Regions from separate parts of the Homo sapiens genome. Here regions 1 and 2 are each linked to region 3. Evidence: fine-mapped expression QTL. Tissue or cell type: whole blood. Region 3 holds a variant in brackets; each other region holds the start of a gene. All regions are shown on one strand. Distances are from middle to middle.

Region 1 (8,102 bases), 120 kb before region 3:
CCTTTCCTTGTCTAGATTCAGCTCTTCTGAAAACTTAGTTTACTGAGCACTATGTACTTGGCAATTTGCTAGAAACTGGAGATACAATGAGATATGACACAACTCTTTCTCTTAAAGGGTTCACTCTCAAGTCAGTGAGAAAAATAAGAAAACAGAACATTATAAATAGTAAAAATGGGCTGGGCACAGTGGCTCACGCCTGTAATCCCAGCACTTTGGGAGGCTGAGGCAGGCAGACTGCTTGAGGTCAGGAGTTTGAGACCAGCCTGTCCAACATGATGAAACCCTGTCTCTACTAAAAATACAAAAATTAGCTGGGTGTGGTGGCAGGCGCCTGTAATCCCAGCTACTCGGAAGGCTGAGGTACGAGAATCACTCAAACCCTGGAGGCAGAGGTTGCAGCGAACTAAGATGTTACCACTGCACTCCAGCCTGGGCAACAGACCAAGACTGTGTCACAAAAAAAAAACTAAAAATGGTATAAGTGGTAAAAATGGAGATGGAAGTATGTACAGGGTGCTGTGGAAACACAAAGAAAAGTCACCTAACCCAAACTAAGGAGGAGGGGTAGTCAGAAAAAGTCCTAGGTGCCTGTAGACAGAAACTTGTCCTCACTCTCACCAGGGTGATGCTCCCAGAGCACCCTGTAGTCATCTCTGTCACAGTCTTGATTTTACGGTAGTGAATGGTCTGTTTCTTTACTGCTTTTTTCTCTGGATCACAAAGGGCCCAGGAAGGGGATGCGCCCATGCTACAGAAGGCTTGGAAGGACTGGCTCAACATGCTAAGGGTTTGGGAGCTGATGAGAATTTTTAAAGAAAACAAGCAGCATGATCAGATTGATAGTTCAGAAATGGAACCAATTCCAGCAGCAACGTGGAGGATTAAGTAGACTACAGGACCCAGAGGTTCAGAAAAAGCATAACCAAGGTCTGAACCAGTCTTCTGGCAATGAAGAGAGAGAAAAAAAAAAGATGTTATGAAGAGAGGAAAAAAAAAGATCTGAGGTAGCAACAACAATAGGATCTATGCTAGACTTAATGTGAGGAGAAAAGAAGATGATTTTAAGGTTTCTAGAGTAAAGATCTTAAAATAGTAATGTTTGTATATGTGCTTAAAGGGGGCTATGGGTGGAGAGAAAGGGAAGGAAAAGGTAACCACATTTGAAGTAATCAAGCATCCACATACAGCTATGCAGTAGGCAGATGAAAATTAGAACCTGAGGTTCAAGAGAAACGGGGACTAAATAGACGTCTTTGAAAACCATAAATATATAGGTGCTATTTGAAGCCATGAAAGGAAGTGTAATCACACAAGGAAATTAGAGAAAAGAACAAAAATGAAACCCTAAGGAATGCCACGTTAATCTGAGAAGAATAAAAAAAGAAAAGGGAAGCATCAAGAAAAGCTTTGTTTTGGTCTGAATGGTGGAAACCTGAGGATGTATACCATCCAACAGAAAAAATAATAATATGGGAAGAGATCAAAGACGTTAGCTTTCGAAAGTAAGACCCCTCTTCTTCTGAGATCAGAGGAAAGGATATTAGAAATCAGGTACAGACAGGCACAGACAAAAATGACCTCTCCTTAAGAGTTCAGGGCTGATGCCCACCAATTTATTCTGTGAAGTTAAGTGGCAAAATAAGCAATGAAGAGAAGGCAAGAGTAGGACAAAGAGTCAGAGAAAAATGGTAAAGATCCATAAACAGCCATTTAGATTTTAGGACATAAGAGGAATCTAGAGGTTAAGTCAAAGGATCTCCAGGATCCAGAAGTGCAGAAACAGCACCCAGCAGTTTAGTTATATGATTTTTGCCAGTCTGCCTTGGGAGCCCAGGAGCAGAAAAAGCTGACTGATTCGTCCAGGCTTGAGACCATCAGAGCAAAGGTGGCAAGAATAGTACAGGGCCAATGACAATGCTTTTATCATTTTAAAAAGTCAAACGTATTTTACTCTTTTTTAAAAATCGACTCGCTATTTCCTCCAAGAGCGAGTGTTTGGAGAGGGGGAGGGAGAGGGGTGGATAATTCCTCTCTCACTCTTAGAGGACTTGTCAGAAGTTTCATTCTTAAGCATATTTGGTCTGTACAGCAGCTGATTCCAGGAAATCCAAATCCTGATTCCTCCTGGATCTTAAAAGATGAAAATTCATTGCAGCTCCCTGGACTATCCAGCTAATAGATAAACACGTACCACATTGCTTATATACTATGCCACTTTAGCTGGGAGGTAGGGGCTCTTTCTTTCCTAAAAAGAAAGTTACCCAAACACTGCAGATGGGGATGGAGAGGGGATGGGGAGTAATTACACCGCAAAGCCTGCTGACTAGCAGCCTAAGAATCCTTTACAAAGGCAATTAACATAAAACAATACATGGCACGGATAGCAGAATTGTTTCTTCTTAATGAATGCAGTAATTGACCATTTAATCGCTTTACTGGAGTTCACCAATTTCTCCTGCCATCTCCCATACCATTCTTCAGGCAGAGTCAAATCCCTGTGGACACTGGACTTCTTGCTACCATCATCTGGAAAGTACAAAACGCCTGGAAGGAGGAAGAGGCTAACATGCGTGACCACCCACCATGTGCCAGGCCTACTGTGTGCTAGACTCTGGGCAAGGGACTTTACATGTTATGGGGTGCAGCTCATGTAAGGACGAATGAAGATATTACACTATGGATCTGAGCCAGGCGCAGTGGCTCACGCCTGTAATCCCAGCACTTTGGAGGCCGAGGCAGAAGGATAGCTTGAGGTCAGGAGTTCGAAGCCAGCCTGGGCAACATAGAGACTCCATCTCTCAAAAAAAAAAAAAAAAAAAGCGATGAATCCGGCATTGCAGAGAGTGGGAAAGTGTCTGGAGGTTTAAGAGTAAGAGAAGGAAGAGGAGATTGCGATGGTGGGTGGTCAAAGTGAGGGGAGAAGAGGCGAGTTGGGAAAGGAAGGTGCTTAGGAGCAAAAGGGCAAGACCCAGGGACACCTGGAGCGGGGCGGGCGACTGCCATGCAGACAGGACTACGTACAACGGGTAGGATGATGGGGCGATGAGCTCAAGAAGCGCAGCCGGGGTAGACGTGGGGGCAAATGTCCGATCCCGGCGAGACGAGGGTCTCATCCCAGGGGACTGCGGGGCTAGGACGTGGTCCCAGGGCTGCGAGAAGGGAGAGAAAGGGCAGAGGGGAGAGGCCCCGGCGGCCGGGGCGAAGCCGAGCCCGGGAAATGCCGGCGATGGGGGAAGGGGCGTGGGAGCAGGGGCCGGACGGGCCAGACCCGGGGCTCCGCGCTCGGGGGCGGGGTTGGACAACCGGGAGGCACCGAGCAGAAGGCGACAAGGGGCCAAGGGATGCCAGGACGGGGCACAGGGCCGGGTGTGAGGAGACGAGAGGGGAGCGGAGCCGCAGCGAGCGCCGCGTCCCCCTTACCTGGGATGAGTGAGGAGCCGCCGCGCCGCCTGGACGGCATCCTGGCCTCAGCCGCTGGTCCCACCGCCTTCGGTGGGGGGCCACTCGGGAGCCCGCCCTCACCGCCAAGCGCCGGCAGCTGCCAGCCTGGACCGGCCCCGCAGAGCAGCGCCGTTCCGACCCGCAACCGAAGCCGCCTCAGCAGCGTCTCCCGCGGTCGCCAACTCAGCGACAACCGCCAGGGTCCGGGGAGGTGGCGGGATCACACATCTGCTACGATTGGCTGAGCGGACGATGTGTCGGCTGCTCTGATTCGTGAGTTCCGGCCGGCTGCCCACCGAAGGAGGCGCGGCTGGGAATGGAGCTGGGTCCGGCAGGCGCCGAGGGGCGGGGGTCTGACGTCGCAGCCGGCCAGCGCCCCCACAGCCCTTCCCGTGCGCGCTCCCGAGGGGGCTTCCCGGCAGCCGCAGGCCTGGCCGGGTGGTTGCCCTAGCAACAGCGCGCGTGGCCTGGCTGCAGGGGAGCCGCGGGCAGGTGGCGGTCCTCACCGCCCCCACCCCCAACGTGGGTGTCCCAGAGGCCTTCATCAGTGAAACCCTAGGACAGGAGAAGAAAATGAGCTTTTCCTGATAATTCCTCTCCTCTGCTTCAGAGCCCACCTTTGCCCGCTGCTGGCAGAGAAGCTGTCATCTCCTCGGGGAGATAACGCGCAAATGCAAATAACGAACTCAAACACTATTTCATCCCCACGAGAGTGTAGACGTGCAATAGTCCCTCCCAACCACAGAGGTGGGGGGCTGACGCCCTAAAAGAAAGAAATGAAAACTAGGGAGAAAAAGGCAAAGAAGCAAAAGAAAGGTGGGGAAAGGGCAGATATTTCACAAAATGATCCATTCATTTTACAGTTTCTTCCTACAGACACATCTACACCAGGTTCTGTCAAAGCAATTATTTCTACTCCAGTGACATGGATTAGAGAAGGCATGAGTGCAGAATCTAACAGCTGTATTCAAAATTGCTCTCTGCTAGGCCAGGTGGGGTGGCTCATGCCTCTAATCACAGCACTTTGGGAAGCCAAAGCTGGTGAATCACCTGAGGTCAGGAGTTCGAGACCAGCCTGGCCAACATAGTGAAACCCCGTCCCTGCTAAAAATACAAAAATTAGCCGGGCATGGTGGCGGACGCCTGTCGTCCCAGCTACTGGGGAGGCTGTGGCAGGAGAATTGCTTGAACCCGGGAAGGTAACTACCTTCCTTTGCACACAGTATAATATTTTCAAAGTTCATCCATGTTGTAGCATGTATCGGCACTTCATTCCTTGTTACGGCCGAATAATAGTCCATTATACAGACATCACCTTTTTTTTTTTTGAAGAGTCTCACTCTGTCTCCCAGGCTGGAGTGGAGTTATGTGATCTTGGCTCACTGCAACCTCCACCTCCTGGGCTCAAGTGATTCTCATGCCTCCGCCTCCAAAGTAGCTAGAATTACATGCATGTGCCACCATGCCTGGCTAATTTTTATATTTTTAGTAGAGACGGGGTTTCATCAAGTTGCCCAGGCTGATCTTGAACTCCTGGCCTCAAGTGATCTGCCTGCCTTGGCCTCCCAAAGTGCTGGGATTACAGGCATGGGCCACCGTGCCTGGCTGGACATCATCTTTTATTTATCCATTAATCCATTGATGGACATCTGTTTCTACTTTTTTGGCTATTATACATGATGCTGCTATGAACATTTGTGTAGAAGTTTTTGTGTGTGGCCGGGTGCAGTGGCTCACGCCTGTAATCCCAGCAGTTTGAGAGGCCGAGGTGGGCGGATCACAAGGTCAGGAGATCGAGACCATCCTGGTTAACACGGTGAAACCCCGTCTCTACTAAAAATACAAAAATTTAGCCAGGCATGGTGGCTGGCGCCTGTAGTCCCAGCTACTCGGGAGGCAGAGGCAGGAGAATGGCGTGAACCCGGGAGGTGGAGGTTGCAGTGAGCCAAGATTGTGCCACTGCACTCCAGCCTGGGCAACAGAGTGAGACTCCGTCTCAAAAAAAAAAAAAAAAAGAAGTTTTTGTGTGGACCTCATTTGATCTTTACAGCAACTGTCTAAGGTACATATGATATCTCCTTCTACAGATAATCAGCTGACTGGGTGTGGTGGCTCACGCCTGTAATCCCAGCAGTTTGGGAAACCCAGGCAGGAGGGTCCCGTGAGCCCAGGAGTTCTAGGCTGCAGTGAGCCATGATGGCACCACTGCACTCCAGCCTGGGTGACAGACTGAGACCTTGCCTCTCACCCAAAAAAAAAAATAATAATTATATATATGTGTGTGTGTGTGTGTGTTTGTGTGTATATGTGTGTGTGTGTATATATGTGTGTGGGTGTATACACACACACACACAGAGATAGATAAGAAAACTGACTATAAGATGGTAGACAGCAATTTTGTTGTTTGTTTGTTTTTGTTTTGAGATGGAGTTTCGCTCTTGTTGCCCAGGCTGGAGTGCAATGGTATGTATGACCTTGGCTCACTACAACCTCCGCCTCCCGAGTTCAAGTGATTCTTCAGCCTCAGCCTCCCCAGTAGCTGGGATTACAGGCGCCTGCCACCATGCCCAGCTAATTTTTTTGTAGTTTTATTAGAGACAGGGTTTTGCCATGTTGGCCGGGCTGGTCTCAAACTCCTGACCTCAGATGATCTGCCCGGCTCCACCTTCCAAAGTGACGGGATTACAGGTGTGAGCCACCGCGCCCACCTTTTGTTTTGTTTTTAGAGACAGGGTCTCACTATGTTGCCCAAGCTAGTCTCGAACTTCTGACCTCAAGCGATCCTCTAACCAGTCTTTTAATGTTAAGCAAGGGCCAAGTTACATTCTGCTTTCTACATTTCAGACCTCTTCAGGAAAAGGACTCACCATGGCCTCAGTAATACGGAAGCCACCACCGGTGCACAGCCCCTGCCAGGCTCTTTCCACAAAGTAGAGATGGAGATCTGAGATAACCTCCCACACTGCCCAGAAAATCCTTCCCCCACCTATAAGACCTAGAAAAAGAATTGAGTAGCCACATAGGGAGCTGACACTGGTCCTCCTAGCACGTATTAAACTGTGAGAACGAATTCTAGATGTGGGGAATTCAGTAAGAAGAAAGGACACGATCCTTTCAGTGAAACCTGTCATACGGCAGGATGTCTCACTGAGCAGGACAGCTTCAGGTGATCCGGGGACTACACTCTGAGGCAGAAGTAAGAAGCAGGGTCCAGCCTCTGACAGGGTCCAGCCTCTGAGGCAGAAGTAAGAAACAGCTTGATCTGAAGCAAAGCTCAGGGTTATTGAGAACAAGATGAACTTTTCCTGCTTTCTAAATCTGCCCCAACACATATAGTATATGTGCTAGAAGGAAAAAAAACTCCAAAATATACTCAAGTGAAAAGAACAAAGTTCAAAACAGTGTGTATAATATACCCATTTGTATATATTTAAAATACACATACACACACACTTGTTATTTTCAGAGGAAATATCAAGAAAGATGCACACATTAAATTGGTAACAGTGTTGTCTCTGGGAGGGAAACTGAAGGACTTGGGCACAGGAATAGGAAAGAGACTAATTCTTTGCTATGTACTCTTGGGCACCTTTAAAAATTATGTGCTATATGCTTGGATTACCTTTTTTTTTTTTTTTTCTTATTTTAATAGGCAGGGTCCCATTCTGTCACCCAGGCTGGAGTACAGTGGCATAGTCATAGCTCACTGCAGCCTCAAACGCCTGGGCTCAAGTGATCCTCCCACCTCAGCCTCCTGAGTAGCTAAGACTACGGGTGCACGCCACCCACTCCCTGCTAATTTTTTTTTTTTTAGACAGAGTCTCGCTCTGTTGCCCAGGCTGGTGTGCAGTGGCATGATATCGGCTGACTGCAACCTCTGCCTCCCAGGTTCAAGCAATTCTCCTGCATCAGCCTCTCGAGTAGCTGGGATTACAGGTGCCCACCACCACGCCCAGCTAATTTTTGTATTTTTAGTAGAGACAGGGTTTCACCATGTTGGCCAGGCTGGTCTCGAACTCCTGGCCTCATGTGATCTGCCCACCTTGGCCTCCCAAAGTGCTGGGATTTCAGGTGTAAGCCACCGTGCCCAGCCTTTTACTTTTTTTTTTTTTTTTTTTTTGGTAGAGATGGGATCTTGCTATGTTGCCCAAACTGGTCTTGAACTCCTGGGCTCAAGCAGTCCTCCAACGCTGGCCTCCCAAAGTGGTGGGATTATAGGCATGAGCCATCACGCCTGGCCTGGATTACCTATTTACAAGGAATGAATACATAACTTTTTTTTAAAGGAAAACTTGTTCCTGAAAAACTGTCCAAGACTGTATGCACATCTGATTCACACCACATTTCTATTCCTCTGTGTAATTTAATGAGCCTCATAGATTCTGAACACTCTTTCTGCGTTTCTATTTTCTCTCCCGGGCTTTACCTTTCCAGGTGATCAGCCCAGAATTAGATCACCTCACCAGAGAGCATCAGCCAGGTATGGTGGCTCACACCTGTAATGCCAGCACTTTGGGAGTCTGAGGAGGGCAGATCACTTGAGATCAGTAGTTCGAGACCAGCCTGGTCAACATGGTAAAACCCAATCTCTACTAAAAACACAAAAATTAGCCAGGTGTGGTGGGGGCACACCTGTAATCCCAGCAACTCGGGAGGCT
Region 2 (8,102 bases), 27 kb before region 3:
AATAAAAAGAAGAGAACAGGACGAGGGCGAGGAGGAAAGTATACCAGACAGAGGGTACCACAACGCAATGGTCCTCAGGAAGTGCTTAGAAGGTTAGAGGAGAAGGAAATACCTGTCAGTGGAAAGTGTGTGTCTGGGAGGTTGGGAGAGTGGCAAGTGGTAAGGCTGGGGAGTAGGTGAGGTTTTACAGGGTCTTGCAGGTCCTGGTAAGAGATGGAGATTTTCTCTAAGTACAATGGAAAGTCAATGAAGGGTTTTACCCAGGAGCGACATGTTCCAATCATTACTTAAGATCACTCCAGTTGCCATGTGGAGAACAGAATGGAGGCTGGGGAAGAGTGAACACTCAAAGGCTATTGCTTAATCCAGCCCAGAGGTGATGGACTACAAAGCTAACATTGGAGATGGTGAAAAGTAACTGCATTCAAAATATATTCTAGGGTGGAAACAACAGGACCACTGATGGACTGGATTTAGGGAGTGAAGAGAGAGGGCTAGATTTTTGGTCTATGCAATTGGATAGATGATGAGAAGAAGGTTAGAAACATACCTTTGAGAACCATCAGCACATAGATGGGTGAAATGACAGAGTGTGGAGAGAAAGGGTCCCAGGACTGAGCCCTAAGATACCACTCAACACTTAGACATCAAGCAAGAGAGGAACGGGACCCAGGGAAGGACACTGAAGTAGTCCTTGATGTAGGAGGAAATACGCAAAGGAACATACATCACAAGAAAAGGAAAGTTTCTAGAGTTTCTGTATTAACCACTGCTGAGAGATCAAGAAAGTTGAGGCCAGAAAATCAACCTCTGAATTTGACAAGATGGAGGGATCAGGTTTTTTTTTTTTTTTTTTTTGAGACAGTCTTGCCCTGTCACCTAGGCTGGAGTGCAGTGGCACAATTTGGTTCACTGCAACCCCTGCCTCCCGAGTTCAAGCGATTCTCCTGCCTCAGCCTCCTGAGTTACTGGGATTACAGGCGCCCACCACTACACCCAGTTAATTTTTGTATTTTTAGTAGAGAGGAGGTTATGCCATGTTGGCCAGGCTGGTCTCAAACTCCTGACCTCAGGGGATTCGCCCACTTCGGCCTCCTAAAGTGCTGCGATTATAGGCATGAGCCACCACGCCCCGCTGGTTCAGGTAATCTTAACAGTCATTCCCGTAGACCAGTGAGGATGAAAGCCCAACAGAATGGCTGAGAGAATGAGGGGCTAATCAGCACTTTCAAGAAGTTTTGTTGGGATGGGAAGCAGAAATGGAGTAAGAGGGGGACATGTATGTGGGGACGGAGGATTTTCTAAGATGAATTCTCTAAAGCAGGGTTGTATGCTCACAGGAAATGCTCTAGTAAAGAGGGAAAAATTAGTAATGATGGCTTGGACTAGAGTAAATTATATGAATAGTTTTTTAGGTTGCAGATGAAATCCCATCAGTGGGTTGCAAAATTAATTCAGTGGTTCAATTTTTTTTTTTTTTTTTTTTTAAGACAGAGCCTTACACTGTCACTCTGGCAGGAGTGTAGTGGCTCTATCTCAGCTCATTGCAGCCTCCTGGGATCAAGTGATCCTCCCATCTCAGCCTCGTAAGTAGCTGAGACTACAGGCATGAACCACCACACCCAGCTAACTTCTTAATTTTTTGCAGAGACAGGGTCTCCCTATGTTGCCCAGGCTGGTCTCCACCTCCCAGGTTCAAGTGATCCTTCTGCCTAAGCTTCCCAAAGTGCTGGGATTGCTGGTGTGAGCCACCACGGTTGGCCCCATTCATATTAATAAAAAATAGACAATATGAGAGTGTACGCCACACATTATTGTTTCATGAGCCTTTCATTTCAGTTACACAGACATATTGTGTTTAAAAAAAAATCGGAAGAGGCCAGGTGAAGTGGCTCACGCCTGCAATCCCAGGACTTTGGGAGTACAAAGCAGGAGGATCACTTGAGCTCAGGAGCTGGAGACCAGCCTGGGCTGTAGTGAGACCCTGCATCTACAAAACTTTTTTTAAAAAATTAGCGGTGAGTGATGGCGTGGGCCTGTAGTCCCAGCTACTGAAGAGGCTGAAGCAGGATTGCTTGAGTCCAGAAAGTGAGGCTGCAGTGAACCATGATTACACCCCGCCTGGGGGACAGAGCAAGACCCTGTTTCTTAAGAAAAAACAATTAATTAAAAATGTAAAAATGTGAAATGCCATAGTACATATAACCATTAAACATGAGGCAAAAGAACATAAAGGAAACTGTATCAAATAATCAGTTCAAAGAGAACACAAGATAGTAATACCTACAAATTAATATCAACCGTATAAAGCCCACATTCAGAGTAGATGCAAAATCTTCCATTTGCACCAGGCGCAACGAGCAAGCATGGAAAAGACCACGTGGAGTTAAACTGTCAGAAAATCTTTTACCCTCGCCTTGCACACACACCCACACACCCCCTGCTGTTTCTCTGGTCCCAGTCCTGGTTCACGTCCTTCCCTTCTCCACCCCAAAACCAGCCCCTTCCCTCACAGTGTTTACTGCTCCCATCAAATTCCGAGGGCAGCTCTTCCGAGGGCTCTCCAGGGGCCTACAGCTGCAAGCAGAGCTCTACCCGGCCCTGATTCGTCTCTCCTCCACCTACTTTCAGGGCGGACAGACTCAGGCCTTTATAGCCTTCTAAGTCCGGGGTCGGATACCAGACTGGGCTCCACCCCCGCACTGTGACCCAGAAACGCTGGTAAACGAATGAGAGAAGGAGGGGGCACATTGAAAGGCAGCCGGACACGGAAGTGCTCGGCCCCGCACCAGACACGGCGTGGAGGGGAAGCGAAGGTTCGGAAGGGCAAAGCGAGAGTCCCGTTCGTCCCCGTCACCACCCCGCGGCCCTCCCGGACAGGGCCGGCCCGCTGCCCTCACTCCCGTACGAGGGTCGCCCAGTCCCCACGGCTCTCGGCTCTCAGCTCTCAGCGGTCAAACCGTTGGGCTCCTCGGGCGAAAAGGGACGCGCCCGAGAAGACTTACACTTCCATGACGTCCCGCCTCGTCGCCCCTAGCTGCCAGCAGACAAAGAACCTCACACTTCACAGCTGTCTCCGCCGCCACCAACAGCGCCAAGGTGCCAGCTCCGCGCGCCAAGGTGCTCGCCGGGATCGCCGCGCTGCATGCCGGGAGCTTGGCGGACCCGGAACCTCGCGCTGCGCGTTCCCCTTTTTCGGGGGGCAGGGTGGGGGAGTGTCCCTGCATCCTTCCACCAGGCCGATTTAAGACTGCTAAGCGTTTGCGGACAGGATTATCTTGTGTTTTCTTTTCTTTTTTTCTTTAACCTTTTTTTTTTTTTGAGACGGAGTCTCGCTCTGTCGCCCAGGCTGGATCTCGGCTTACTGCAACCTCCGCCTCCTGGGTTCAAGCGATTCTCCTTCTGCCTCAGCCTCCCAAGTAGCTGGGACTACAGGCGCTTGCCACCAAGCCCGGCTAATTTTTTGTGTTTTTAGTAGAGACGGGGTTTCACCGTGTTAGCCAGGATGGTTTCAATCTCCTGACCTCGTGATCCGCCCGCCTCGGCCTCCCAAAGTCCTGGGATTACAGGCGTGAGGCACCGTGCCCAGCCTCTTTTTTTCTTTTTTGAGACAGAGTCTCGCTCTGTCACCCAGGCTGGAGTGCAGTGGCACGATCTCGGCTCACTGCAATCTCTGCCTCCCAGGTTCAAGCAATTCCCTGCCTCAGCCTCCCGAGTAGCTGGGATTACAGGCGCCCGCCATAACGCCTAGCTAATTTGTGTATTTTTTAGTAGAGACGGGGTTTCATCATCTTGGCCAGGCTAGTCTTGAACTCCTGACCTCGTGATCCACCCGCTTCGGCCTCCCAAAGTGTTGGGATTACAGGCGTGAGCCACCTCGCCGGGCTCTGTCTGTTTTCGTGGTCTAGGTTTTAACAAAGTATTAATCAGCTGAAGTTGTGAGACGTGATCGGGTTAGTGGGCCTTTGCATGTTAAAATCCCACCTCTCAGAGAGTAGTGAGGCTGGTGGCATCTGGGCTGCCAGAAACATTGCAGTTTATTTATTTATTTTTTAAGAGACAGGGTCTTGCTCTGTCGCCCAGGCTGGAATGCAGTGGTGCAATCAGAGCTCACTGCAGCCTTGAACTCCTGGGCTCAAGCAATCCTCCCACCCCAGCCTGCCAGAGTAGCTGGGACCACAGGTGCGCTCCGCTACACCTGGCTAATTTTCTTTTTTTCTTTTTCTTTTTCTTTTTTTTTTTTTTTGAGATCAGTCTCACTCTGTTGCCCAGGCTGGAGTGCAGTGTCGTGATCTCGGCTCATTGCAACCTCTGCCTCCTGGATTCAAGCAGTTCCCTGCCTCAGCCTCCCCAGTAGCTAGGATTACAGGTGCCCGCCATAATGCCCAGCTAATTTTTGTATTTTTTTAGTAGAGACGGGGTTTCACCATCTTGGCCAAGCTGGTCTTGAACTCCTGACCTTGTGATCCACCCTCATCAGCCTCCCAAAGTGTTGGGATTACAGGCGTGAGCCACTGCACCCAGCCACCTGGCTAATTTTCTAAAATAAAATTCTTTATTGTCCAAAGAGTCAGCTACAAAATTTTTTAATTTTTTTGTAGAGATGGGGGTCTCACTGTGTTGCCCAGGCTGGTCTTGAACTCCTCGCCTCAAGTGATCCTCCCACCTCCAACTCCCAAAGTGCTGGGATTACAGGTGTGAACCACCACAATAGCCTCTGTTGCCTACTTTGTAAATAATAAGGGTGTTAAATAATCCTTATAAAGTTCCTGGCACTTTATTAATTACTGTGGCAATACAACCATGACTCTCTATGAGGTACATTGCATTATTATTGACATTTTATAATTGAAGAAACTGAGGCAGACTTGGAGAGATTATGATTTACCAAAAGTCACTCATCTAGGAAGTTGTCCAGTGGGTATTGAACCCCAGCCAATCTGAACATATACAACAGATGCATTAACTAGAGACTGATGAGTGGATGAATAAAATGTGCTACATTTGTGCAATGGAAAACTACTTAAAAAGGAGGCTGGCCGGGCACGGTGGCTCACGCCTGTAATCCCAGCACTTTGGGAGGCCGAGGCGGGCAGATCACGATGTCAGGAGATCGAGACCATCCTGGCTAACAGGGTGAAACCCCGTCTCTACTAAAAATACAAAAAAAATTAGCCGGGCGTGGTGGTGGGCGCCTGTAGTCCCAGCTACTAGGGAGGCTGAGGCAGGAGAATGGCGTGAACCCAGAAGGCAGAGCTTGCAGTGAGCCAAGATCGTGCCACTGCACTCCAGCCTGGAAGACAGGGCAAGACTCTGTCTCAAAAATATAAAAATAAAAAGGAGGCCAGGCTTGATCTCAGCACTTTGGGGAGCAGAGGCAGGAGGATTTCTTGAGACAAGGAGTTCCAGAGCAGCCTGGGCAACATAGCTAGACCCCCTAACTACGAAAAGTTAGCCAGGTGTGGTGGTGAGCACCTCTAGTCCCAGCTACTGGGGAGGCTGAGGTAGGAGAATCGCTTGAGCCAGAAGGTAGAGGCTGCAGGGAACTATGATCACACCACTGCACTCCAGCCTACAGAGTGAGAGACCTTGTTGCAAAAAATATATATAGACAGACTGATAGATAAATGCTGCAAGATGGATAACCTCCCAAAACATGATGCTATTAATAAGTGAAAGAAGCCAGACACAAAATAATATATATTGCCTGGCCAGGTGGCTCACGCCTGTAATCCCAGCACTTTGGGTGGCTGAGGTGGGTGGATCATCTGAGATCAGGAGTTCAAGACCAGCCTGGCTAACATGGGGAAACCCTGTCTCTACCGAAAATACAAAAATCGCCAGGCGTGGTGGCTCACGCCTGTAATCCCAGCACTTTAGGAGACTGAGGCAGGCAGATCATGAGGTCAGTAGTTCGAGACCAGCCTAGCCAACATGGTGAAACCCCGTCTCTACTAAAAATACAAAAAGTAGCTGGGTGTGGTGGGGGGCACCTGTAATCCCAGCTACTCGGGAGACTGAGGCAGGAAAATTGCTTGAACCCAGGAGGCGGAGGTTGCAGTGAGCCGAGATCACGCCACTGCACTCCAGCCTGGGTGACAGAATGAGACTCCTTCTAGAAAAAAAAAAAAAAGAATACATATGGTATGATTCACTTTATATAGAATGTCCAAGAAGAGGCCAATCTATGGATACAGACAGAAGGCTAGGTTGGGGGCAAGGATGGGAAGTGATTGCTAATAAGTAGGGAGTTTCTCTTTGGGAAACAGAAATTGTCTAAAATTATTATAGATGGTGGTGGTGGTTGCACAACCCTGTGAATATACTGAAGACACTGAGTTGTATACTTTAAATGGCATATTGTACAGCATATTAATCCTATATTAATAAAGCTGTTAAACATTTTTTACTCTGCTGAGTGTGGTGGTCCACACCTGTAATCCCAGCACTTTGGAAGATGAAGGCAGGTGGATCGCTTGAGCCCAGTTTGAGACCAGCATGGGCAACATGGTGAAACCTCATCTTTACCAAAAAAATAGAAATTAACCAGCTTGATGGCTCGTGCCTGTAATCGTAGCTACTCAGGAGGCTGAGGCAGGAGCATCGTCTGAATCTGGGAGGCGGAGGTTGCAGATCACGCCACTGCACTCCAGCCTGGGTGACAGAGCAAGACTCCATCGCAAAATAACGACAACAAAAAAGTCATAAAATGCCACCCAGACCCAGCTGGCCTAGTTAGTGTGGAGAATTCCCTGTACCTTCGCTGAGGAGATTGGGCCCCACAAAGAAATGCTAAAGATGCCCCTTGTGTTATTCACTCAACAAGTATGTAGCCATGGCCCATCGGGGGCTGATGATACAAATGTGACTAACACACACCCTCTGCACTGGCTAGCTGACAGCCTAGTTGAGGAACCAGCTCTGGACATAAATAACCACAATGCATTGTGTTTCGACGCGATGGGCAGGGGAGGGAATGACTAATGAGGTGGAGAGGCGTCCCAAAGCCACGGGCCTTTGAAGTGGGTGAGGGAAAAGCACACGAGGCCGAGGGATTGGGTATGGGCTTCAGTGAAAAACAGCAGTGCCTCTGACAGCCCCCATGATAAAATGGCTCAGGTGTGACTTAGAGTAGGGAGTTAGCTGGGTGTTCGAATGATACCCGGTAGGCCAGGTGCGGTGGCTCATGCCTGTCATCCCATCATTTCGGGAGGCCAAGGCGGGTGGATCACTTGAGTCCAAGAGTTCAAGACCAGCCTGGCCAACATGGTGAAACCTCATCTCTACTGAAAATACAAAAATTAGCCGGGCATGGTGGCAGGCGCCTGTAATCCCAGCTACTCAGGAGACTGAGGTAGGAGAACCACTTGAGCCCGGGAAGCGGAGGTTGCAGTGAGCCGAGTAAACATTCTTTTTACTGTCTGCACCTCTGGTCCTGGATAGTCGCTGATCACCATGACAATTAAGGGTATGGACCTTAAGAAGAAAAGATTATCCTGGATTTTCTATGTGGTATCAACATAATCACATGGATCATTAAAAGCATAAAATCATTCTCACCTGATGTCAGAGCCCAAGGGAGGTGTGGCTAGGGAAGGGAAGAATGATCTGAGAGATGCAATATTCCTGCCTTTGAAGATGGAGGAAGGGGCCATGAGCCAAGGAATGTAGGTAACTGTAGAAGCTGGAAAAGGCAAGAAAACAGATTCTCCTGTGAAGCTTCCAGAAAGGACTGCAGCCCAGCTGGGTGCCACGGCTCACACCGGTAATCCCATCACTTTGGGAGCCCAAGGCAGGCGGATTACTTGAGGTCAGGAGTTTGAGATCAGCCTAGCCAACATGGTGAAACACTGTCTCTACTAAAAATTTAAAAAATTAGCTGGGTGTGGTGGCAGGCGCCTGTAATCCCAGCAACTTGGGAGGCTGAGGTAGGAGAATTGCTTGAACCCAGGAGGGGTAGGTTGCAGTGAGCCAAGATCGTGCACTCCAGGCTGGGCAACAGAGCGAGACTCTGACTCAAAAAAAAAGGACTGCAGCCCTACCAACACCTTGATTTTAACCCAGTGAGACTGATTTAGGACTTCTGTATTACTCCATTCTCA
Region 3 (8,102 bases):
ACCTCGAGTGATCTGCCCACCTTAGTCTCGCAAATTGATGGGATTACAGGCATGAGGCTCTGCACCCAGCCAAGAAACACTGATTTCAAGACATATCCTGAACTATTTAGGAATGAAATGATGTGATGATGGGAATTTGCTTCAAAATAAGGGGGTAAGGGAGTGGGAGAGAGCTGTGGGTAAAGACAGCTGGAGCCAGGATGTCCGTGAGTTGATTATCATTGAAGCTGGGTGTCGGTACATAGGGTTCATTATGCATTCTCTAGCTGTTATATACATAAATTTCCCATAATAATTGATTTTAAAAGAAATCAGCCAGGCAAAGTGGCTCATGCCTATAATCCCAGCACCTTGGGAGACCAAGGTGGGAGGATGGCTTGGGGCCAGGAATTTGAGACCAGCCTGGGAAACATAGGGAGACCCTGTCTCTACAAAAAATAAAAAAATTAGCCAGGCGTGGTGGCGCATGTTTGTAGTCCCAGCTACTCTGGAGACTGAGGTGGGAAGATCACTTGAGCCCAAGAGTTTGAGGCTGCAGTGAGCTACGACCGCACCACTGCACTCCAGCCTGGGCGACAGAGAGTGACCCTGTCTCTAAAAAATGTTTTTTAAAGATATTTAATTTAATTTAATTTAATTTATATATTTGTAGATGGAGTTTTACTCTGTGGTCCAGGCTGGAGTGCAGCGGCATGATCTTGGCTCACTACAACTTCCATCTCCTGGGTTCAAGCTATTCTTCTGCCTCCGCCTCCTGAGTAGCTGGGATTACAGGTGTGGGCCATCACGCCTGGCTAATTTTTGTATTTTTAGTAGAGACGTGGTTACGCCATGTTGGCCAGGCTGGTCTCAAACCCCTGACCTCAAGTGCTCCATCTGCCTCGGCCTCCCAAAGTGTGAGATTCCAGGCATGAGCCACTGCACCTGGCCTTTTGTTTAGATTTTCTTTTTTTAAAGAGTTCTGGTCAGGCCATTTGACAGGCCCCAGGCCCCCTGAGTCTCATCTACTTCCACTGCATGGCAGCAGTTTCTGTCCTTTCCCTGTTCCCCAGGAGCAGGAGCGAGCACACCTCTCCTTCCCTGCCCCAGGTCCTCCAGCCCCACCTCACCTCCTCCCAAGGCCACCCTCCCCGCATGCCCACCCCAGTGCCTGGGACCTAGGGGAGGAGAAGCAGGGGGGTGATGTCTTGCCTGCAGCGTAGAGATGACGCCAGTGGCCACCTGGAGCACGGCACTCATAGTGTCTGACACTTCAAACACAGCTTCCTTGTCCTCCTGGGAGGCACATGGCAGGAGGTGAGGGCCTAGCAGCCCCCTGGCACCCAGGGTCCCCACAGCCCCACCCCCCCACTGAGGCATCCCCACTGCCTTCCATGGGAAGAACACTCAATACCCCAACAAAGGAAGGGCAGAGAGTTCAAGGGCAGCCACGGATGGAGCTGTGTGCACAGGATGGGAGGATGTATGGCAATCCCGGGGTGGGGCCCTGCCTGAGTGTGCCAGAGCCCTGAGAACTGGCACGTACTAGCCAGGCCTCCCCCGGCCTCGCACCTGTAAGTCTTTGTTGTAGGTGCTGGGAAGTCCCTTGAGGGTCATCAGGAGCCCGGCACACTGCGGGAAGAGGGAGGCACAGGGGCTGGACCCGGGATCCTGCCCCCCTGGCCACCCACCATCAGCCCAGAGGCCCCGCCCCTCCCCCTGCCTTGCTCACCCGCCCAAACACACGCCCAGCCTTGCTCCGGATCAGCTCCAAACTGTCGGGGTTTTTCTTCTGGGGCATCAGGCTGCTTCCCGTGCTGGGGACAGAGGTGCTGGCGCTGAAGGGGCTGGACCCTTGGCTGGTCCAGCGCCGCAATGGCCAGGTCTGGCGGAGGGGTGGGACGGGGAGGAAGGCAGCCACGTCCGCGGGCGGCGGGGGATACAGAGGCCGGCAGCGGCAGATGGAGGTGGCAGTTCAGGGCTTACCTGTAGGCATCTGAGAGCTGCACGAAGCTGAATTCCTTGGTGCAGTAGAGGATGAGGTCCTCGGCCATCCTGCTGAGATGGGTCATGCACAGCGAAGCCCAGAACAGGAACTCGGCTGGGAGAAAAGGTTCCCAGTCACCAGGCCTCTCCCATCCCCACCCAGCCTGACCATACAGGGGGCAGGAGGAGGTTAGGCGGTGGGGGGACCCGGCTAAATTTTCATTTTTCGCAAAGATGGGGTCGTGCTATGTCGCCCAAGCTGTTCTGAAACTTGTGGGCTCAAGCAATCCTTCTGCTTTGGCCTCCCAAAGTGCTAGGATTACAAACGTAAGCCATTGCACCTAGCGTGTTTTTTGTTATTGTTGTTGTTTTAAATAAACCAGCTTTACTGAGTTATCACTCACATACAATTTATCCATTTATTTATTTATTTATTTATTGAGATGGAGTCTCGCTCCCAATGCACAGGCTGGAGTACAGTGGCACAATCTTGGCTCACTGCAACCTCTACCTCCCAGGTTCCAGCGAATCTCCTTCCTTAGCCTCCCGAGTAGCTGGGATTACAGGCATGCACCACCATGCCCAGCTAATTTTTGTGCTTTTAGTAGAGATGGGGTTTCACCATGTTGGCCAGGCTGGTCTTAAACTCCTGACCTCATGTGATCCACCTGCCTCGGACTCCCAAAGTGCTAGGATTACGGGCGTGAGCCACCATGCCTGGCCTATTTATTTTTATTTTATTTTATTTTATTTTTTGAGATGGAGTTTCGCTCTTGTTGCCCAGGCTGGAGTGCACTGGCGTGATCTTGGCTCACTGCAGCCTCCGCCTCCTGGGTTCAAGTGATTCTCTGGCCTCAGAACTCCTGAGTAGCTGGGATTACAGGCACCTGCCACCACACACCCAGCTAAATTTTGTATTCTTAGTAGAGATGGGGTTTCACCATGTTGGCCAGTGCTGGGCATGGTGAACCACCATGCCCCACCCACTTTACCCATTTAAGGTTTATACTTCAGTGTACAATATCACCACAACCAGCCTGTCCGTGGAGGTGTGGGAGGAAACTGGAGAGAAGCTGGGCTGAAGGACTAAAGTGAGGCACAGGGCAGGGGACTGGCTCCCCAGGACTCACCCACAAAGTCCCGCTCACTAGTGGCATCCATGCTGTTGAGAGTGATGGCCCCAAAGTTGAGTTCTGGGGGGGTGGGAGGAAGCAGGGCTAAGCTGGAGGACAGGGAGTGGCCCCCTCTCCCCCAACTAGGTTGCCCAGCCCCCTCCCCTGATCAGGGTGGGGCAACAGCTGGGGGGAGGGATCTTTTGCACAGTCCCAGGAGGGAGGCAGGAGCCCTGAGTCTCTCAGTACCAGGCATCCCTGCCATGAGTGACCCCTGAACTTGATGACCTCAGTGCCCA[T/C]AGGCAATGAATGAAGGTTTCACCAGGAGCCACAGGCCCCTGCCCTCTGGTTTCAGGTGTGTCTGCAGGTCTTGGCGGGTGCTGAGGGTGATTCTCCCTGGGGAGGAGGGGCAGGACGTCTCACCTGCTCGGAGCAGCTCTCGGTCCACACCCAGGGGATTGCCTGCAATGGCCCCACTGCAGGGACAGGGATTCATGGTGACCAGGGCTCCTGGCAGGCAGCCCTGACACACACACACACACACACACACACACACACACACACACGAACGCACACACAGAGAACCAAGTCCTGGTTGCCAGGGCAACCACCTGGCGCTTAGCCTCTTCCCTGGCCCAGTCTCCTTGGGTACAGAATACTTGTCCCCAAGTGTCCACAAAACACTTGTCCCCAAGCACTAAGTCACCCTGGGTGCAGGACACTTGTCTCCTGACACATGTTCCCACATGTCAGGCTGAGGGCAGCAGGCTGGGCTTGCCAGGAGCCTTGCTGGAGGGCTCTGGCCCTGCTCAGACACATTCAATGGCTTGGTCGTCACCTTAGCGAGAGCTGGGGCTCCATGCAGAGTCCCCCGCTGAGCAGATAAGGCGGTTTTCTGTCCCACTCTGCACTTCCCAGCTCTGTCAATCCCTAAGGCTATGCAGCAGCCACCCCCACCAGGCCCTCGGGGCACTGGAGCCTCACCCACCTCCCCAGGGGCAGGACATTGATCCGCTTCCGCACCTCCAGCAGCCGCTCAGAGTCTCGGGTCAGTGCCACGGCGTGGCTGTGGGAAGCCAGGGGCAGGAGGGTCAGGGCAGCCGGGGTCCTCCCCTCTAGCACAGCCCCTGCACCTCACCTGGCTCACCTCAGAATCCAGTGGCTCCAGCGGATGGGCTGGGCCCTCTGCAAATGGGTGTACCCCGGGAAGAGAACATCACGTTCCCTGTGGGAGAGGAGGAGCAGAAGCTCGGGTGGAGGCTCATGCAAGGCCTGCCTGTGACACTGGAACCCTGCAGGCCTGGGTCACCCCTGGAAAAAGTGTCACGCTGCAGCACTCCACCTGAATGAGGGATCTGGTGATCTCCCAGGGACAAATCAGTCTTAAGGGCAAAAGAAGCTGGAAGTGGGACCGTGTGAACCAAGGACTGGGCCTGAGCTGTGGGGCTTCCTGCAGTGAGGCTTTGCCAGAAACACCCCAAGTCCAGCCTCTGTCACTCAGCATCTCCGAGCAGGGGCCAGAATAGGGGAGGAGGCCCATGTTGGGTATGACTTGGCCGTGGGAGGTTTCGTTTGAGGACCCTAGAAATAGCTGGGGCTCATTCAAGGGCTGCTCTGAGCAGGTGAGATGCCCTGCACCTCATTCAAGTAGGCAGGGCAGAGGCAGAGGTGCTGTGAGTGATGGTCCTGTTTTCTTGTTGTTTTGTTTTGTTTTTATTTTTAGAGACAAGGTCTCGTTCTGTTGCCCAGACTGGAGTGCAGTGGCATGATCATAGCTCACTGCTGCCTCGATCTCCTGGGCTCAAGCGATCCTCCTGTCTCAGCCTCCTGAGTAGCTGGGACTAAAGGGACATGCCACCATGCCCAGCTAATTTTTAGTTTTTTGTAAAGATGGGGTCTTGTGGCCAGGCGCGGTAACTCACGCCTGTAATCCCAGCACTTTGGGAGGCCGAGGCGGGCAGATCACAAGGTCAGGAGATCGAGACCATCCTGGCTAACACGGTGAAACCCCATCTATACTAAAAATACAAAAAATTAGCCGGGCGTAGTGGTGGGCGCCTGTAGTTCCAGCTACTCAGGAGGGCTGAGGCAGGAGAATGGCATGAACCCAGGAGGCAGAGCTTGCAGTGAGTTGAGATTGCACCATTGCACTTCAGCCTGGGCGACAGAGCGAGACTCCGTCTCAAAAAAAAAAAAAAAGATGGGGTCTTGCTATGTTGCCCAGAGTGGTCTGAAACTCCTGGTTTCAGGCAGTCCTCCTGCCTTGGCCTCCCAAAGGGCTGGGATTACAGATATGAGCCACCATACCTGGCCTGTTTTTTTGTTGTTGTTGTTTTTGAGAAAGAGTTTCGCTCTTGTTGCCCAGGCTGGAATGCAGTGGCGTGATCTCGGCTCACTACAACCTCCACCTCCCAGGTCCAAGAGATTCTCCTGCCTCCCAAGTAGCTGGGACTACAGGTGCCCACCATCACACCCAGCTAATTTTGTGTATTTTTAGTAGAGATGGGGTTTCACCATGTTGGCCAGGCTGGTCTCGAACTCTTGACCTCAGGTGATTCACCCGCCTCAGCCTTCCAAAGTGCTGGGATTACAGGCGTGAGCCACAGCACCTGGCCTGTTGTTTTAAATAAACCAGCTTTACTGAGATATCATTCACAATTTACTCATTTAAAGTTTACACTTTACTGTACAACCATCACCACAACCAATTTTAGAACATTTTCATCACCCCATGAAGAAATTCTGTACTCAAGGCCAGGCACGGTGGCTCAAGTCTTTAATCCCAGCACTTTGGGAGGCCAAGAGGGAAGGATCACTTAAGGCCGGGAGTTTGAGACCAGCCTGAGCCACATAGTGAGACCCTGTTTCTACAAAAAATTTAAAGAATTCGCGGCTGGGCACGGTGGCTCACACCTGTAATCCCAGCACTTTGAGAGTCCGAGGTGGGTGGATCATGAGGTCGGGAGATTGAGACCATCCTGGCTAACATGGTGAAACCCCGTCTCTACTAAAAATACAAAAAATTAGCCGGGCGTGGTGGTGGGCACCTGTACTCCCAGCTACTCGGGAGGCTGAGGCAGGAGAATGGCGTGAACCTGGGAGGCAGAGGTTGCAGTGAGTGGAGATCACGCCACTGCACTCCAGCCTGGGCAACAGAGCAAGACTCTGTCTCACAGGTGGTGCACACCTGTGGTCCTAGCTACTCAGAAAGCTGAGGTGGGAGGATCATTTGAGTCCAGGAGTTTGAGACTGCAGTGAGCTATTACCAAGCCATTGCACTCCAGCCTAGGTGACAGAGCAGGATCTCATCTCTAAAGACAATTTAAAAAGTTAAAAATTTAAAAATTAAGCTGAGCGCAGTGGCTTATGGGTGTAATCCTAGCACTTTGGCAGGCCGACGCGGGCAGATCACCTGAGCTCAGGAGTTCAAGACCAGCCTGGTCAACATGGCAAAACCCATCTCTACTGAAAAAAATACAAAAATTAGCTGGACATGGTGGTGCACACCTGTAATCTCAGCTACTTGGGAGGCTGAGGCACTAGAATCACTTGAACCCAGGAGGCAGAGTTTGCAGTTAGCTCAGATAGCGCCACTACACTCCAGACTAGGTGACAGAGCAAAACCCTGTCTCAAAAAAAAAAAAACAACAACAAACAACAACAACAAAAAATTAAAGAAACCCTGAACTCAGTAGCAGACACTCCCTGTTCCTCCTAGCAGCCCCACACCACCTGCTGGGTGACAATTCTTGTGCCCTTGTTTTCCCCCAAGTCTGCACAACAGGGGTCACAGGGAGTTGAGGAAGAGGAGGGGTCTCTGACAACACATGGAGACTTCTCAGCAGCTCTTCGTCCAGGTCTGCAAGGAACAAATCCAGTCCCAAAGACACCAGGTCCCAGAAGCCAAAGCCTGAAATGAGGCCAGCAGGAGGCAGCCTTTGGCTCTGTCTTTTGCCAGATGGGCTGGATGGGGAGGCGAAGCTTAGGATGGGGGATCTGGGGGACAGGCAGTGTGGGGAGTGACTCTGGCTGCTCCAGGCACAGCCAAGCTAGCTGTGCTTGGCTTAGCTTCCTGCCTTCAAATCTGCAAATGGTGAGTTTTCTTTTTTTTTTTTCTTTTTTTTTGAGACAGGAGTCTCGCTCTGTAGCCCAGGCTGGAGTGCAATGGCGCGATCTCGGCTCATTGCAACCTCCTCCTCCCGGGTTCAAGCAGTTCTTCTGCCTCAGGCTCCCGAGTAGCTGGGATTACAGGCGCACACCACCACATTGCCTAATTTTTGTATTTTTAGTAGAGACAGAGTTTTCCCATGTTGGCCAGGCTGGTCTCGAACTCCTGACCTCAGGTGATCCACCCACCTCGGCCTCCCAAAGTGCTGAGATTACAGGCGTGAGCCACCGCACCCAGCCCCACGAAGGGTTAGTCTTCTCTGCCTGCTGAGCTAGACTGGCATGGGAGTATTGGGGCCTGCAGGAAATGGCCCACTCCTGGCTGCTCTGCCTCGATCCTGGAGTTCTGGGATGCCCCTGTCCCCCAGGGCCTGGCACCCCCACGCTGTTCACCCCTGCCCCCTAGGTCTCCTGTTCAGGCTTCCATCACACCTCTGTCTGCCCCCTGGGTGTCCCTGTAGGACTCACGCCTCTGCCCGATCCACCATGGTCCTAATGAGCTCCCAGAGGAGGCCCGAGAGCGTGGAGCAGGTCTGCCGCATCCACAGCCTGAGGTCTGTGACCACCTGTGCAAGGAGGAGATGGTGCTCAGGGAGGCCGATGTGTTGCTTCCCTGAGGAGCCAGGACCGCTGCAGAACTCTAACTGCCCCCTGGGCTCCTCAAGGTTGGGACAACACGGAGCAGGGGGTGGAGGGGCTAAAGCACCTGGTCATTCCGGCTCCGTCCCGTGTGCAGCTTCCCTGCCGTTGCACCAATGAGCTCCTGGAGGTGAAGGGAGACCCAGGGTCACGGTCTATACCCCCAGAGGAGTCAACCCAGGCAGGGCAGTTTTCCTCATCAGCCCTGCCAACCTACCT

Evidence for each region. PIP is the estimated chance that this variant, and not a neighbour inherited with it, causes the effect.
Region 1: it holds the start of TPST1, and the variant in region 3 is fine-mapped to the expression of TPST1 in whole blood (TOPMed, PIP above 0.99).
Region 2: it holds the start of CRCP, and the variant in region 3 is fine-mapped to the expression of CRCP in whole blood (INTERVAL, PIP above 0.99).

The regions. Positions count from the first base shown.
Region 1 is chr7:66,200,844-66,208,945 of GRCh38, reverse strand. It overlaps TPST1 (tyrosylprotein sulfotransferase 1), which reads right to left and starts at 3,612. Exons shown (of 6, transcript NM_003596.4): 1 at 3,424-3,612. RefSeq lists silencers at 3,210-3,569, 3,720-3,989.
Region 2 is chr7:66,109,874-66,117,975 of GRCh38, reverse strand. It overlaps CRCP (CGRP receptor component), which reads right to left and starts at 3,129. Exons shown (of 6, transcript NM_014478.5): 1 at 3,006-3,129. The coding sequence starts at 3,013. RefSeq lists silencers at 2,340-2,634, 4,063-4,253 and enhancers at 2,221-2,749, 3,287-3,416.
Region 3 is chr7:66,082,785-66,090,886 of GRCh38, reverse strand. It overlaps ASL (argininosuccinate lyase), which reads right to left. Exons shown (of 17, transcript NM_000048.4): 5 at 7,951-8,007; 6 at 7,713-7,810; 7 at 4,225-4,302; 8 at 4,066-4,143; 9 at 3,501-3,553; 10 at 3,096-3,158; 11 at 1,966-2,080; 12 at 1,712-1,796; 13 at 1,552-1,611; 14 at 1,192-1,275. Among named protein-coding and RNA genes, the nearest start is that of ASL, 11 kb to the right of the region's middle. RefSeq lists an enhancer at 3,956-4,583. The variant T/C (reference allele first, on the strand shown) is at 3,377.